Linked DNA regions of Homo sapiens. The protein of the gene in region 2 interacts with the protein of the main gene of each other region in a pairwise test. Each region holds a gene or a part of one and is shown on either strand. Other genes may lie near its edges.

Region 1 (6,812 bases), on a different chromosome or scaffold from region 2:
AACTGAATTTTGTCTCCCCAAAGTTCATATGCTGAATCCCCAACCCCAAATGTGATGGAATTTGTAGGGCCTTTGGCAGGTAATAGGGTTAGATGAGGTCATAAAGGTGGGGACTTCTGTAGGATTAAGATGAAGAAGAGAGAGAGATCACCCTCTTTCTCCATGCCCACACATTGAGGAAAGGCCATGTGAGGACACAGGGAGAAGGTGCCAATCTGAAAGTCAGGAAGAAAGATCTCACCAGACTTTGACCATGCTGACATCCTGATCTCAGACTTCCAGCTTCCAGAACTGTGAGAAAATGAATTTGTATTGCTTAAGCTACTCAGTCTGCAATACTTTGTTATGGCAACCCGAGCTAAGACAAGGAATCCTGGAAATGTGATTTTATTAAACATTTCTGAAGATCAACATTATAACATGTAATAAAGCCTCTCAGAAAAGTTTTGTGATTATTGTACATTTATTTTACCACCTACCAAATACTTCAAATCATCCTTCTAAGGATGGTATAAAACAGTGTCTTGACTTTTTCGAGCTGTACTCATGTAACAGTCTAAAATAAAGGTTGCTAAGCGATAGCTTCCCCAAAACCTGATCTAGCTGTTGTATGTGACTGGCTTTCTCCCACAATCCTTCTTGTCTCTCCCCTTGACTGTAGGCTTGACGGGGGGAAGAAATTATTTTCCTCTTCATCGTAGTAAAATATGTTGCTCTACTCCCAGCCCCTGGCTATTGTTACAGTTCTCCATTTTGCATCCTTCCCCGTTCTACTTCATTGTTTACTTCTTCCTAATTACATCTTTCTTCCAGGTACTTTTCCTTTAAAATAATGTTAAAAAATAAAGAATTAAGTATAATTTGGTGATGCCTCAGGCCTTATTCTGGCAACCAGTTAATCACCATGCCAGGTTTACCATTACAGTTAAACAAAATATTTGAAAGAAGGAAATGAATGTTTTATCTGTTTTTATTTTGAAAAGTCTTAGTAAATATCTTAGTCTCATAATTTCCTGCTTAAAACCATAATCAAACTGTTTCATTTCCATCTTTCTTCAACTTTAAGTTTTACTGCTTACAAAGGAGAAAAAATGGCCAGCTTTACATTCCACAAACTCTACATACCATTCTCTGTCTCACACAAAGCATCTGCAGGACATGTAGAGAAAGCTTTTGTGAAAAGAGAATTTGATAAATGCAAGTTTCCAATGTACTACAAAACTTGTGACAACAGTATCACATGAATTTATGCAATAATCATAATGAAAATATTAATAGAATATAAATACCTGAAGAGTGGCAATGCCAGGAAATGTGAGGTGACACAACAAATAAACTATTTGATTTGTAATATAGCAGATTGACAAGTATAATCTGGCTGCTTAGGTTGGAGCATCATGCTATAAGATAAAGAGTTTTGCTTGCAATGCCTGTGTATTGGCTTTTCCTTCATTAATATAAGCTGTTTTCACATTGCCAATTTTTCATATATATACATACTTTTTTTTTTTTTTTTTAGACTTAGTCTCACTCTGTCGCCCAGGCTAGAGTGGAGTGGCGCTATCTCCACTTACTGCAACCTCCGCCTCCCAGATTCAAGCGATTCTCCTGCCTCAGCCTCGAGAGTAGCTGGGATTACAGGTGCACACCACCACACCTGGCTAATTTTTGTATTTTTAGTAGAGATGCGGTTTTGCCACATTGGCCAGGCTGGTCTTGAACTCCTGACTTCAGGTGAACCACCTGCCTCGGCCTCCCAAACCAATTTTTCTTATAAGTTAATAGAATGACCTGAAAATTTAATTGCCTCCTACCTAGGTTACTTGCTTTTTTTTTTTTTTTTTTTGTTTTGAGAAAAGATCCTACTATGTGGCCCAGGCTAGCCTTAGACTACTGGGAGATCCTCCTGCCTCAAGCCTCCCAAGTTCCTGGGACTACAGGCATTCACCACTACACCAGGCTTTGCCAATTTTAATCTATAGGAGCTTATAGGCCAAATTTTAACCAAAAGTCTTCCCTGCAGTGTTAAAAATGTAAACATTTATTCCCATACGTTTCTAATATAATTTAATAAATACTAGTCAAGTGAAACAGTGGGAGTGGAGAAGGAACAAAGAAATCTGTAACTGGTTGTGAGCAATTCGTTGTAAGTACCACCGTACTTAGACCAGCCCATTTTTAATTTAAAAATGTGTTTTGATCATATATTTATACACTTGACTTTCTCAACCATTTATGAAAACTTAGAAGAGTGGGTGTTCTTTATCAAAACTGAGTTTTTTGAGGTAGAGAGAATAAAATGGTTTGTTGGGAGTTGAGGACAATATTTAGAGTTTCCTGTGTTGCAGACACTTCTCTTCTATTGAGTGAGATGTTGTTAACTTTGTTTCTTGTCTATTAGTGGGTCCTGGGAGAGATCAGAAATTCTGGGATATGTCATCTGCCCTAGGCAAGTCATTCACAATTCTGAGCATGCATACATCTTAGCTGCTTTTGAGTCTCCTACAGAATGATGGTGTGGTAAGCATGGAGCAAAGCTCTTATCACTACCCTTCTAAGGCTGGTGATGCTAGTCACTTCTTAACTTCCAGTTTGGGGAAGAAGTGAGAAGAGAGGTTTAAAAAAAAGGCACTGTTGTATTACAAACCAAAATCAAAAACAGATTTCTATACTAACTACCCTTCCAAAGGTAACACATTAGCTATACCGTTAATCTAGCAAAGCAGGGAGGAAAATGAAGGAGTGCATTTGTTTCATTAGTCTTTTCGTTTTGAGAGGTAGACAGGAGAGATAGAGATACACAAGACTCAAGTTTCTTGATACAGTAAGTATATTAAGAATATAAACGGGTTTGATAAAATGAACATTTAAAAAACATGGCACCAGGCTGATTCTTCTTCCTGCACACCTTAATGCCTAACTTTTGAAAGGACTTGAGACATAAGAATCACAATTTTAAAAAATTATAGTTTCCATGCCTTCATGGTGGATCAATTTCCATAGAAGTCTACCAAAATGACTTATCTCCATCCCAGGGAAGCAACTGCAAGAGGGAAAATGAAAGGAATGCAGTCTTTCTATGTAGGCAGAGTGGACTTAAGTGTGAGTCAGAAACACCGATTTCAGTTTGTGCGCTGCAACTTGATAACTTGGGTGATGTTTGGCTTCTCAGAACTTTGGGAGGTGAATTTGAAAAACAGGTAATGCCACACTATATAGTTCAGAGGATTACCTCAGCTTACAAACAGCAAATGAGACGCAAATGTGAGCCATAATTCACATTTCTAAGCAGTTGGAGCCCTGATATGGCACTGGGGTTACAAACAAGCGGGGAAAAATGTCAACCCAGTGATGTCATACTCCTAGGCCGGGCCCTAAGATTTTTTTGGAACCTGGCGGGCTGAGCACAACAGGGAAAGCCTCAGCACCCTGACTTGGCACAATGGTACCCTTAAGGCTCTTTGCTCACTCAGTTCTTAGTAGCTCTCCTAAAGCATGGTGGTGTTCTCTTCCAGTTCTCTGCGTAGACTTTGCTATGCTTCTCCGCCCACTGCTTCATCCAGAGAAACACTCGTATCCACAGCCTCTCCCCACTTTCCCTCACGCACGGCTCTAGAAAGACGGGGATAGGGCGCGGCTTAGGCTTTATACACCTTGCCAGCCAATGACCGCGCCGTCTCCTTTCCGGTCGGCGATCCGACCAATCCAAGAAGGTTGGTGCAATCTTCGGCTCTACTCGGCTGTTTTCGCTGATGCGGGCAGCTTGGGGGCCGCCGCCGCTAAACAGACGCTTTCCTTTTTAATTTTTTTTCCATGTGTTCACTTCCGGGTCCGGCGTCGATCCGGATGCCCGAGGCAGAAGGATGTTTGACCTCCGGATAAGCGAGGCGCTGCTGTGCATTCATTCCGGGCTGCATCGGTGGCGACAGCAGAGGCTCGGGCGGCGACTCTCCGGCCAGCGGCGGCGGTAGGAGGCACCAGCGGCAGTGCAGGGACCGAATCCGAGCAGCGCTGCGTTACCTCTCTCTCTCGCTCCTTCCCCCCTACCTCGCTCGCTCGCTCGCTCGCTCCCTGCGTGGCTCGCTTTCCTCCTCCGGCCGCCGGCGGGTGTGATGTGCCGCCGCCGCTGCCCCCGCCGGCGCTGACGGACTGGGGGCGCCGCCCGCGCCCGGGACCGACCCCTCTGCTCGCGGCCGCGCCTTTGAGGTAAAGCCCCCTGCGCGTAGGTGCTCCGCTGCCAGCCCCGGCCCGGCGGCTGCCTCGGCGCGGCCGCGGCGCCCTCCCTCCCGGGTGGGGCTGGGGTCCCGGGCGGGTGGGGTGGGGTGCGGCGGGGGCGGCGCCGCAGGCGCGGGTGTCGGGGGAGGGGTGGGCGAGGACCATGGCGGGTGGCCCGGAGGCGTGGGCAGGAGGGGGCCGCGGTCGGAGGCTGAGGGCGCGGAGGGCTAGGGGGCAGCGGGGGCCGCGGGTGGCGGGTCGGGCTGGGTGCAAAAGTTGCCGGAGTGGTGCGGCGCGACTGGGGCGGCGAGGGAGGTGGGCCAACTGGGCCGGCGGGGGCTTCCTTAGGAGAGATTGGGAGGTGGGGAGTGTCGCCCACGGTGCTCCTTGACTGTGTCCAGACAATTACCTTTGGAGTAGGGGCTTCAGGCAGGAAGGAGGCATGGATAGGCTGGGAGGAGGCGACGGGGGCCAGCGTTCAGCTCAGGGATAAACTTCCCGTTGGAGTGTTTAAGGGGTTGGGTGGGGGGACACAGGGATTTACCTGTTTCTTAGAGCTTTGACTCAGCTCAAAACTTAACCAAGACATTAGTCAAAGGTTAGCAAAATCACTCTGATGGTTACTCTCATGGTGCCGGTTTGTTTGTTTATCCCACATGCAGGGGAAGTGACACTGAGAAGCATCGGGTCTCTTGGTCCACAGCCTCCACATTTCTTTTCAGCAGGATGAGGAGGGAGATGTGTGTCTACTCGTGGGGTGGGGGTAGTGAGGCCTGTGTCATGGTCATTCCCCTTCTCCCACCTCATGTTTTAGGGAGGAAAAGTTCAGATGGGGGAGAGAGTGAGTGTGCCTGTGTGTGTGGGAGACAGCTACTGTTGATACACTGTGTGAATTACTTTCAACTCTTTTGTAGTAAGCACCCAGGCTGGTCAGTGGCTCCTTTTAAATCTTCTATTAAAATATTTACTTTAAATTAGAGAATTAAAAATGTACTTATTTTTAATGAATTAAGAAAATAAGTCATTATTTTACTTTTTGCAATTACTTAGTCCGATTCAAATGACATTTGGCCACAGATATGAGAGATGGCAAACTATATCTAAGATGGGATATAAAATGAAAAGTATATACTTTTTAAAGATGTTTCTTTTTAAAGATGTTTCTTTGAAGAATATTGGCTTTCCCGGTAAATTTAGAAGAAAAACATTACAGAAATTGTGAGAATAATGTGGAATTAGATGTGAAACTAGTTTAAGAAAATATTTTTCACCAAAAAAATCAGATCTGGTGTGTGACATTAATAGCTTTCTTTTTTTTTGAGCTGTACTTAGTGTATTTTGTAATTATTTACAAACTTTGCTCCAGTTGTATCTTAGGATAAATTGTCTTATTCTTTTGTATAGTTAACCTTTATAGTTGCACAAAAGATAAAAGATAAAAATTACCTTTATGGACATTGGAAGAAAGATGTTATCAAATACATTGTGTGGCTTTGACATACATTCTTAGCAGAATGTACAGACACTTCTGCTTTATGTGAACTGGCATTTCTGAATATGCATTAAATAGAAGTAATTATTGAAATGGGAGACAGAAAGGTTAATTTTAATGTTGTTATGAATGACATTTTTTTGGGGATCTTGAGAAACGATTGTCTTTACTGATGATTTATTATAGTCATCCACCCCCTTCTGCCATTCATCAGCTTAAACATTAGTGTGTTATGTAATTATTGACATTTTCATCATTAGATTTAGCAAGCATTTACAATATATTAACAAAATCTTCAGTACATGAAAGGCATTTATTACTTCCTTGAAAATAAAGGACTGGAATTAGTGGAATCAAGGAATAGTTTAATTCAACCAGGACCACCTTTACTCTGTGGCAAGGATGGAACAGTGGGTAGAATATGAAGATGAATGAGACTCAGTACTGCCTTCAAGGGAGAAGCAGACATACACAGAGGTAATTCACAGATTCCTGTGGGTTTTGTTGGAGGTGTATTGGAAGCATGGGGTGTGTGTGTGTGAGATACTAATTTTTGACTGGGAAATTTTGAATGGATGTAGAGCTGGTAACACTCCATCTGGGCCTTAACATAGTTTAATAGGCAAAATGGGGACTGAGGGGGTGATGGTGGGGGTAGTTTTCTCGGTGAAGGGAACAGCCTGAGGAAAGGCATGTGATTGTGTTATAGGGCTTGTTGAACTGGACATAAGGCTGTTTTGCCAGGAGGTCTTTGTGGGAGAAGCTATGAAAGTAGGTGGAGATCAGGCCATGGAAGTTCAGCTTGTATTTAAAGATGAGTCAGTTTGAGGCATGAAGGTCCAAATGTACAGATCGTAGGCTGACAGTAGGTAGGCAAATAACGATAGTAAGTTTAAGGAAACAAGTTATAATAAAATAGTCAATTTTCTATCATTGGCACTACTGAAGGAAAGCAGAAAAGTATATAATCCAAAACAATCTATATATAGTTTCGTTAAATTTCTTTATTTGCATTTAAATATGGGTGTGTCTGGTAATCTAGTAATTGGTTATACATGAAATCAATCCAGACTGTAAAAATGTGACTCAGGAAGAAATGAGAAGC
Region 2 (7,683 bases):
AAAAATGATAGAGACAGAAAGTAAAATGGTGGTTGCCAGGTGCCTGGGGGGAGGAGGAGGAATGTGGAGTTAGTGTTTAATGGGGACAGAGTTTCAGTTTTCCAAGATGAAAAGTTTTGAAGACGGATGGTGGCAATGACCGCACTGCATTATGAATGTATTTAATATCACTGAACGGTACACTTAAAATGGGATAAATTTCACGTGTATTTAACTACAATAATTTTTTAAATATTTGAAGTAATAATGACCAAAAACTTCCCAAATATGATGAAACACATTGAATCTACACATTCAAGAAGCTCCATGAGCTTCAAGTAGAATAAACTCAAAAAGATCCACACAGAAACACAAAATTAAATTATTGAAAGCCAAAGACAAAACAAGAATCTTGAAAGCAGGAAGAGAGAAGATTAACAGCCAATTTCTCTTCAAAAACCATGAAGAACAGAAGGCAATGGGATGATGTACTTAAAGTGCTGAAAGAGAAAAAAACTGTCCACCAAGAAGTCTGTGTCCAATGAAATGATTCTTTGAAACTAAAGGAGAAATTAGGACACTTCTGGATAAATAAATGCTGAGAGAGTTTATTGCCAGTAGGCCTGCCCTACAAGAAATGACAGCTCAGGATGAAATCAAAGGGCACTAGACAATAACTTGAAGCCATATTAAGAAATAAAGAACTGGCTGGGCACAGTGGCTCACGCCTGTAATCCCAGCACTTTGGGAGGCTGAGGCGGGCAGATCAGAAGGTCAAGGGTTTGAGACCAGCCTGGCCAACATAGTGAAACTCCATCTCTGCTAAAAATACACACACAAAAAAAAATAGCTGAGTGTGGTGGTGGGCACCTGTAATCCCAGCTAGTTGGGAGGCTGAGGCAAGGAGAATCACTTGAACCTGGGAGGCAGAGGTTGCAGTGAGCCAAGATCGTGCCACTGCTCTCCAGCCTGGGTGGCAGTGCAAGACTCCATCTCAAAAAGAAAAAGAAGAAAAGAAATAAAGAACACTAATAAAGGTATCAGTTTTGGTAGTTTGTATGTTAATAGGAATTTATCCATTACATCTAGGTTATCTACATTATGAATGTATTTAATATCACTAAACATGCTTAAATGGAATAAATTTTATTGATTTTATGTGTTAGTGTACAATTGTTCATATATTCTCTTATAGTCTTTTTTATCTATATAGGTCAGCAGTAATGTTCCCACTTTCATTTCTGATTTTAATAATTAGAGCCTTCTCTTTTTTCTCAGTCTAGTTAAAGGTTTGTAAATTTTATTGTTGCTTTCAAAAAACTAATTTTAGGCTTCGTTGGTTCCATTGTTTTTCTATTCTCAATTTCTTTATTTGCTCCCTGTATTCTACATATAATCTTTATTTTCTTCCTTCTTCTAGGTTTTGGTTTAGTTTGCTCTTCCTTTTCCTGGTTCCTTAAGGTGTGAAGTTAGATTACTGAATTGAGATCTTTCTTGTTTTTTAATATAAGCATTTATAGCTACAAATTTCCCTCCATAAACTGTTTTGCCGTATCCCATAAGTTTTGGTTTGTTATATTGTCACTGTCATTTATCCCATAGTATTTTCTAACTTCTCTTTTGATTTATTCTTCAATCAACTGGTTGTTATAAGTATGTGTTGTTTAATTGCCACATATTTGTGAATTTTCCAGTTTTCCTTCTGTTATTGATTTCTAATTCCCACTGTGGTCAGAGAAGATACATTATATGATTTCAATAATTTTAAATTTATTGAGACTTGTTTTTTGGACTAACATATGGTCTAATCTGGAGAACTGAGAAGAATTTGTATTCTGCTGTTGTTGGGTTGAATGTTTTATACACGGCCATATTAGATCTAGCTTGTTTATAGTGTTCTTCAAGTTCTCTATTTCGTTATTGATCTTTGATCTAGTTCTATTTAAAAATTTTTTTTAATCAGTGGAAGTGACTTATTGAAGTCTTCAAACATTATTGTTGAACTGGAATTGCCTATTTCTTTCTTCTCTTCTTTCCATTTATGCTTGATATATCTTGGGGGTCTGATGTTTGTTAGGTACATGAATGTTTATAACTGATGTTAGGTACACAAATGCTATAAAATGATGGCTTATGCCTGTAATCCCAACTACTCAGGAGGTTGAGATGAGAGGATTGTTTAAGGCCAAGAGTTCGAGACCAGCCTGGGTAACAGAGTAAGACCCTGGTCCCTAAAAAAATATGTTTTTTCATTAGCCAAATATAGTGGTGTGCACCTGTAGTCCCAGCTACCTGGGAAACTGAGGTGGGAGGATCACTTAAGTCCAGGAGTTTGAGGCTGCAATGAGTTATGATTGTGCCACTGCACTCCAGCCTGGGCAACAGGCTGAGCAATACCCTGTCTCTGTTTTAATGGTGCTAGGACAACTGGATATCTACACACAAAATCATAAAGTTGCACTACATCTCACACCAACAAATTAACTAAAAATGGATCAAAGCCCTACATATATGAGATAAAGCCATAAAATTCTTAGAAGGAAACATAAGAGTAAATATGTATGACCTTATTTTGGGCAATGGTTTTTTAGATATGACACCAGAAGCATAAGCAACAAAAGGAAAAAATAGATAAATTGGATGTCATCAAAATTAAAAAGTTTTGTGCATCAAAGGACACTATCAAGAGAGTAAAACAACCCACACAAGGGAAGAACATGCTTGTAAATCATAATTCTGATAAGGATCTAACACCCAGAATATATAAAGAACTCTTATAATTCAACAACAAAAAGTCAACCCAATTTAAAAATAGGCAAAGTCCTTTAATAGACATTTCTCCAAGGAGGATATGCAAATGGATGATACACGCAGGAAAAGAAGCTCAATGTTATTGGTCATTAGGGAAACAGAAATCCACACCACAATGACATGCTGTTGATACTTCATACCCACCAAGATGGCTATAATTTAACACACACATACACCAACAAATAGAAGGTAGCAGATGTTGACAAGGATGAAGAGAAACTGGAATGTTTGTACATTGCTAGTGAGAATATAAAATGGTACAGATGCTGTGAAAAACAGTCTGGCACGTCCTCAAAATGTAAACATGGAATTCCATACAACTCATCAGTTCCCACTCCTAGGTATATACCCAACAGAATTAAAAAGAGGTGTTCAAACAGAAACATGTACAAGAATGTTTATAGGGCCGGGCGCAGTGGCTCATGCCTGTAATCCCAGCACTTTGGGAGGCCGAGGCGGGAGGATCACTTGAGGTCAGGAGTTCAAGACCAGCCTGGCCAACATGGTGAAACCCCGTCTCTACCAAAAATATAAAAAATTAGCTGGGTGTGGTGGTGCGCACCTGTAATCCCAGCTACTTGGGAGGCTGAGGCAGGAGAATCACTTGTACCCGGGAGGTGGAGGTTGCAGTGAGCCGAGATGGGGCCACTGCACTCCAGCCTGGGTGACAGAGGGAGACTCTGTCTCAAAAAAAAAAAAAAAAAAAAAGAATGTTTATAGAAGCACTATTCACACTAGCCAAAAGTTGAAAAGAACCCAAAAGTGCATTAGCAGATGAATGGATAAATGAAATGTGGCGTGTCCCTTTGATGGAATATGATTCAGCCAAGAAAAGGAATGGCGTTCTGAAACATACCCAAACACAGGTGTACCTTGAAAACATGCTGAGTGAACAAAGCTAGACACAAAGACCACATATTCCATGACTGCGTCTATATGAAATGTGCAGAACAGGCAAATCCATAGAGACAAGCAGAATAGTATTGGTTGCCAGGGGCTGGGCATGGCTGCTTAATAGTACCGGGGTTCCTTCGGGAGCGATGATAGTATTCTGGAACTAGGTAGTGGGGATGGTTGCACAACATTATGACTGTACTGTCACTGAATTGCACACTTTAAAATGGGTAAAATGGTACATTTTATTTTATGGTTGATCACAATTTAAATAAAATTACACCTGCCAAGGGTTTCTAAGAATGAAGCCCCTCGCTCTGCAATGCTGGATATTATCAGCATTTTAAATCTTGTTTGCTCTTACAGGTGGGAGACGTGTGTTTAAACCTGAGAAACTTTAGTTATTAATGAGATCAACTAGCTGTTCATCTCATTCATGCTTATTGGAAATTTAAAATTTTTAGTCTTCTATTCATTTCTTTTGTATCTTATCCTGTTTTAGTGGTAAGGACTTCAAATTTTTCACATTAATCTTCCACCTGTCATGGAGATTACAAGTACTTTCTGGCAGTTCATATCTTCATTTGTGTACCCAATGATTCCTTCAGGGCTGTGATGGGAACGTCGTGGATGCTGAGCTGAGCTGAGGCATGTGGACCGGTCTCCAGCACCCAACCCTGCCGGGTTTCCAGGGGACATACGTTGTATGTGTTCTGGTCAAGGTTTATGCTTTCGTTCACATCTGACCCTCTGACATTCCACTGGGCATTTTATACTTGGGTCTGCTGGCTGACGGGCTTCCTTTCCCATTGTATTTCCACACTGTCATGGCAGGGGTACAGGTAGGGGGTGCTGGGTGCAGTGACTTTGTCTCTCATCCAGCCCTTCAGTGAGCGTGGCCTGGGACAGTCACTCTGATCCTAGGTGGACAATGATGTCACCTACAGATACTAGAAATTCACATCACATTTCAACTTCTTGGCATGTGGCTTCAGCCAAAGTGCAAACATAGAGTAAGACCAGGCGTCCGGGCAGTGGGGCTGACTGTGGCCCCATCTGACACTTTTCTCATCCAGACCCCAAGTATCCTCCACTCTCCACGCAACCCTCACTCCACACCTGCCTCTCCAAGGTAGAGGCCCCTCCCCACCCTCAGACCCTGACCTGCACCCGCCCCTCTCAGGACACCTGACCAGGGCTCCAGGGGATGGCAGTCCAGACCCAAAGGCCAGTCCCCAAACCTTGTCCTCCTAATGAGCTGACTGTCCAGAGGCCTTGCCAGAACATTCCATCTCCTCAGAGGAGGGGAGGTCCTCCCTGTCCTCCTGCCCTTGGCAGACATCAGGATCTCAGAAGATCCCAGAGCCCGCCAGGAAGCGCTGTCTTCAAGCATCTTTTCCCAACACAGGCACCTCCGTCCTGGCTCTCCCAATCTCAGCCACGCCAGCCCACCCCGTGAGGTCCCTGCAGACAGAGGCTGGGCCTCCCCCAGGCTGAGGGCCCACGCTGGGCACAGTCACGGGACCTGCCAGGTGGAAGTCACCAGGTCAGCCCCAGAGAGGTCACACCTTCCCTCCTGGTGTTCCCGGGAGACAGGCTCAGCCAGGGGCGCCGGTCCTGCCCAGGACCAGCCAAGTGTTAGGAGCAGAGTGAGGACAAGTCATGGCAAAGGAAGCAGAAATAATGAGGGTCCTCCCGGCTCCAAACACCAACACGGAAGGGGAGGGCATTGCTGAGTCTCCTGCTGGGAAAACACAGGCCCTGGGCATATAAAAGCCCCAGCAGCTGACAGGCTCACACACACACTCACTCACACACTCACTCACTCACACACCTCCCCCAGCTCACCGCCTCCCCACTCCAGCATGGCCGCCTCCACCATGTCCATCTGCTCCAGCGCCTGCACTGACTCTTGGCGGGTAGTCGACTGCCCAGAGAGCTGCTGCGAGCCCTGCTGCTGTGCCCCAGCCCCCAGCTTGACCCTGGTCTGCACCCCAGTGAGCTGTGTGTCCAGCCCCTGCTGCCAGACGGCCTGTGAGCCCAGCGCCTGCCAATCAGGCTACACCAGCTCCTGCACAACCCCATGCTACCAGCAGTCTAGCTGCCAGCCGGATTGCTGCACCTCCTCCCCCTGCCAGCAGGCCTGCTGTGTGCCTGTCTGCTGTGTGCCCGTCTGCTGCGTGCCCGTCTGTAACAAGCCTGTGTGCTTCGTGCCTACCTGCTCCGAGTCTTCCCCTTCATGCTGCCAGCAGTCTAGCTGCCAGCCAACTTGCTGCACCTCCTCCCCATGCCAGCAGGCCTGCTGTGTGCCTGTCTGCTCTAAGTCCGTCTGCTATGTGCCTGTGTGCTCTGGGGCTTCCACTTCATGCTGCCAGCAGTCTAGCTGCCAGCCTGCTTGCTGCACCGCCTCCTGCTGCAGACCCTCCTCCTCCGTGTCCCTCCTCTGCCACCCTGTGTGCAAGTCCACCTGCTGCGTGCCCGTCCCCTCCTGCGGTGCCTCTGCCTCCTCCTGCCAGCCCAGCTGCTGCCGCACGGCCTCCTGTGTTTCCCTCCTCTGCCGCCCCGTGTGCTCCCGCCCTGCCTGCTACAGCCTCTGCTCTGGCCAGAAGTCCAGCTGCTGACAGCCCTGGATGTGATCCGGAGTCCCTTCCCACCAGGGGCTGACCTCCCAGCTGCCCCAGCAAGCTCTGCCCTCTCTGGCTTTGACACCCTCAGAAGGTGGGGCAGGCTCTTTGTCTTGGGGACCAGGATGCTCCCCCAGTCCTTCCCAGATGATGGCTGCCTGTGGGACCCCAGCTACTCCCCCAGACCCAAGTTCTGCAGAACTAACCCCCAGCAGGCCTGGTTCCACCCTGGGCAGCACCCCCTCTAGTTCTAATAAAGCCGCCTCTGTCTCACACCAACCTCTGTCCTGTCTGTGGACCCCCGGGGGGGCACAGGGTGAGGTGGGAAGTGATGCCACCCCTGACTGCAGGGAGAGTCCTGACCCCCAGCAGGCCTGGCTCCACCCCTCTGTCTCTGTCGACCTTCCATCCTGTCTGTGGACCCCCGAGGGGCATGGGATGAGGCAGGAAGCAATGCCTTCTGGTGCTGGCCTCTGTGAACCCTGAAGGCCAGTCTCCCTCTTAGCCCCGTGGGCCCCCAACCCCAGCACGTGGCCCCCCGGCCCATCTTAGGAAAGCTGCCTCTGGAACCAAGGCCAGGAGTTTCGGGACAAAGTGGACCCTGGCAGCACTCTGGGCCCCTGAGCCACATTCACCCTCCCCAGCTCCATGGCTGCCCCCCAGGCCTGGGGTAGACCACCTGGGGCCTGGCTCCACCCAGCAGCCTCACCCCTCCTGTTACCCCTGGGGAGACCAGCTATGGACCACAGTGCTCATCCCTGCAGCCCTCATCTCCTCCACAGTAAGACATTGGGACCACGCCCTCCCCCAGGACTCGAGCCCAGCAGCCCAGTATTCATGGGGTTCTGGAATACCCATTGCTCAGGCATCGCTGGCGAGAGCACAGATGGGCAGGGACCATGGCACCCACTAACCAAGCCTGCGGGCCCCCCTGCCCCATGCGGCCTCACCTAGACATTCAGGGTCCTGGCTCCCTTTTGGTCCCGTGGTCCTGGACTCTGACCCCGAGGACCCTGTCCCCGCACCCCCAGCCTCCCAGGTCTCTCCCAAATAGCCCTCAGCTCTGCCTGCCACCCTCCGTCCCAGATGCCACGTCGGGGAAGTGGCACAAGCTGCTGCACTCTTTCCGCCAGGTCGCTGTGCGCATTTGAGAGCGCACGTCCGGCTCCAGCAAATGACCCTTGCGTGTCAATGACAGAGGCCGCCAGCCCCAGCACCAGGACCTCCCGGAGTCCCACCCCACAGAGCTCCCTGTGGTCAGCACAGCCGCCTCGCTCACTCCCCTCGAGGCAGATCACCCAGGACAACCAGCAGCAGCCGTCCCCAGGGCTGGTGGCCAAACTGACACAGCCTTGTCCACCTCCTTGGAAGCAAA

Evidence for each region. The genes of interacting proteins can lie anywhere in the genome.
Region 1: the proteins of KRTAP10-10 (region 2) and CSNK1G3 interact in binary tests that used the Homo sapiens proteins (3 or more experiments, as listed by UniProt).

Annotation. Positions count from the first base shown.
Region 1 is NC_000005.10:123,508,365-123,515,176, forward strand, and holds the start of CSNK1G3 (casein kinase I isoform gamma-3), read left to right. Parts: upstream 1-3,812; 5' UTR 3,813-4,206; intron 4,207-4,753; exon of another isoform or gene 4,754-6,184; intron 6,185-6,812. UniProt on the Homo sapiens protein: Serine/threonine-protein kinase. Casein kinases are operationally defined by their preferential utilization of acidic proteins such as caseins as substrates. It can phosphorylate a large number of proteins. Participates in Wnt signaling.
Region 2 is NC_000021.9:44,631,869-44,639,551, forward strand, and holds KRTAP10-10 (keratin-associated protein 10-10), read left to right. Parts: upstream 1-5,487; 5' UTR 5,488-5,549; coding exon 5,550-6,305; 3' UTR 6,306-6,587; downstream 6,588-7,683. UniProt on the Homo sapiens protein: In the hair cortex, hair keratin intermediate filaments are embedded in an interfilamentous matrix, consisting of hair keratin-associated proteins (KRTAP), which are essential for the formation of a rigid and resistant hair shaft through their extensive disulfide bond cross-linking with abundant cysteine residues of hair keratins.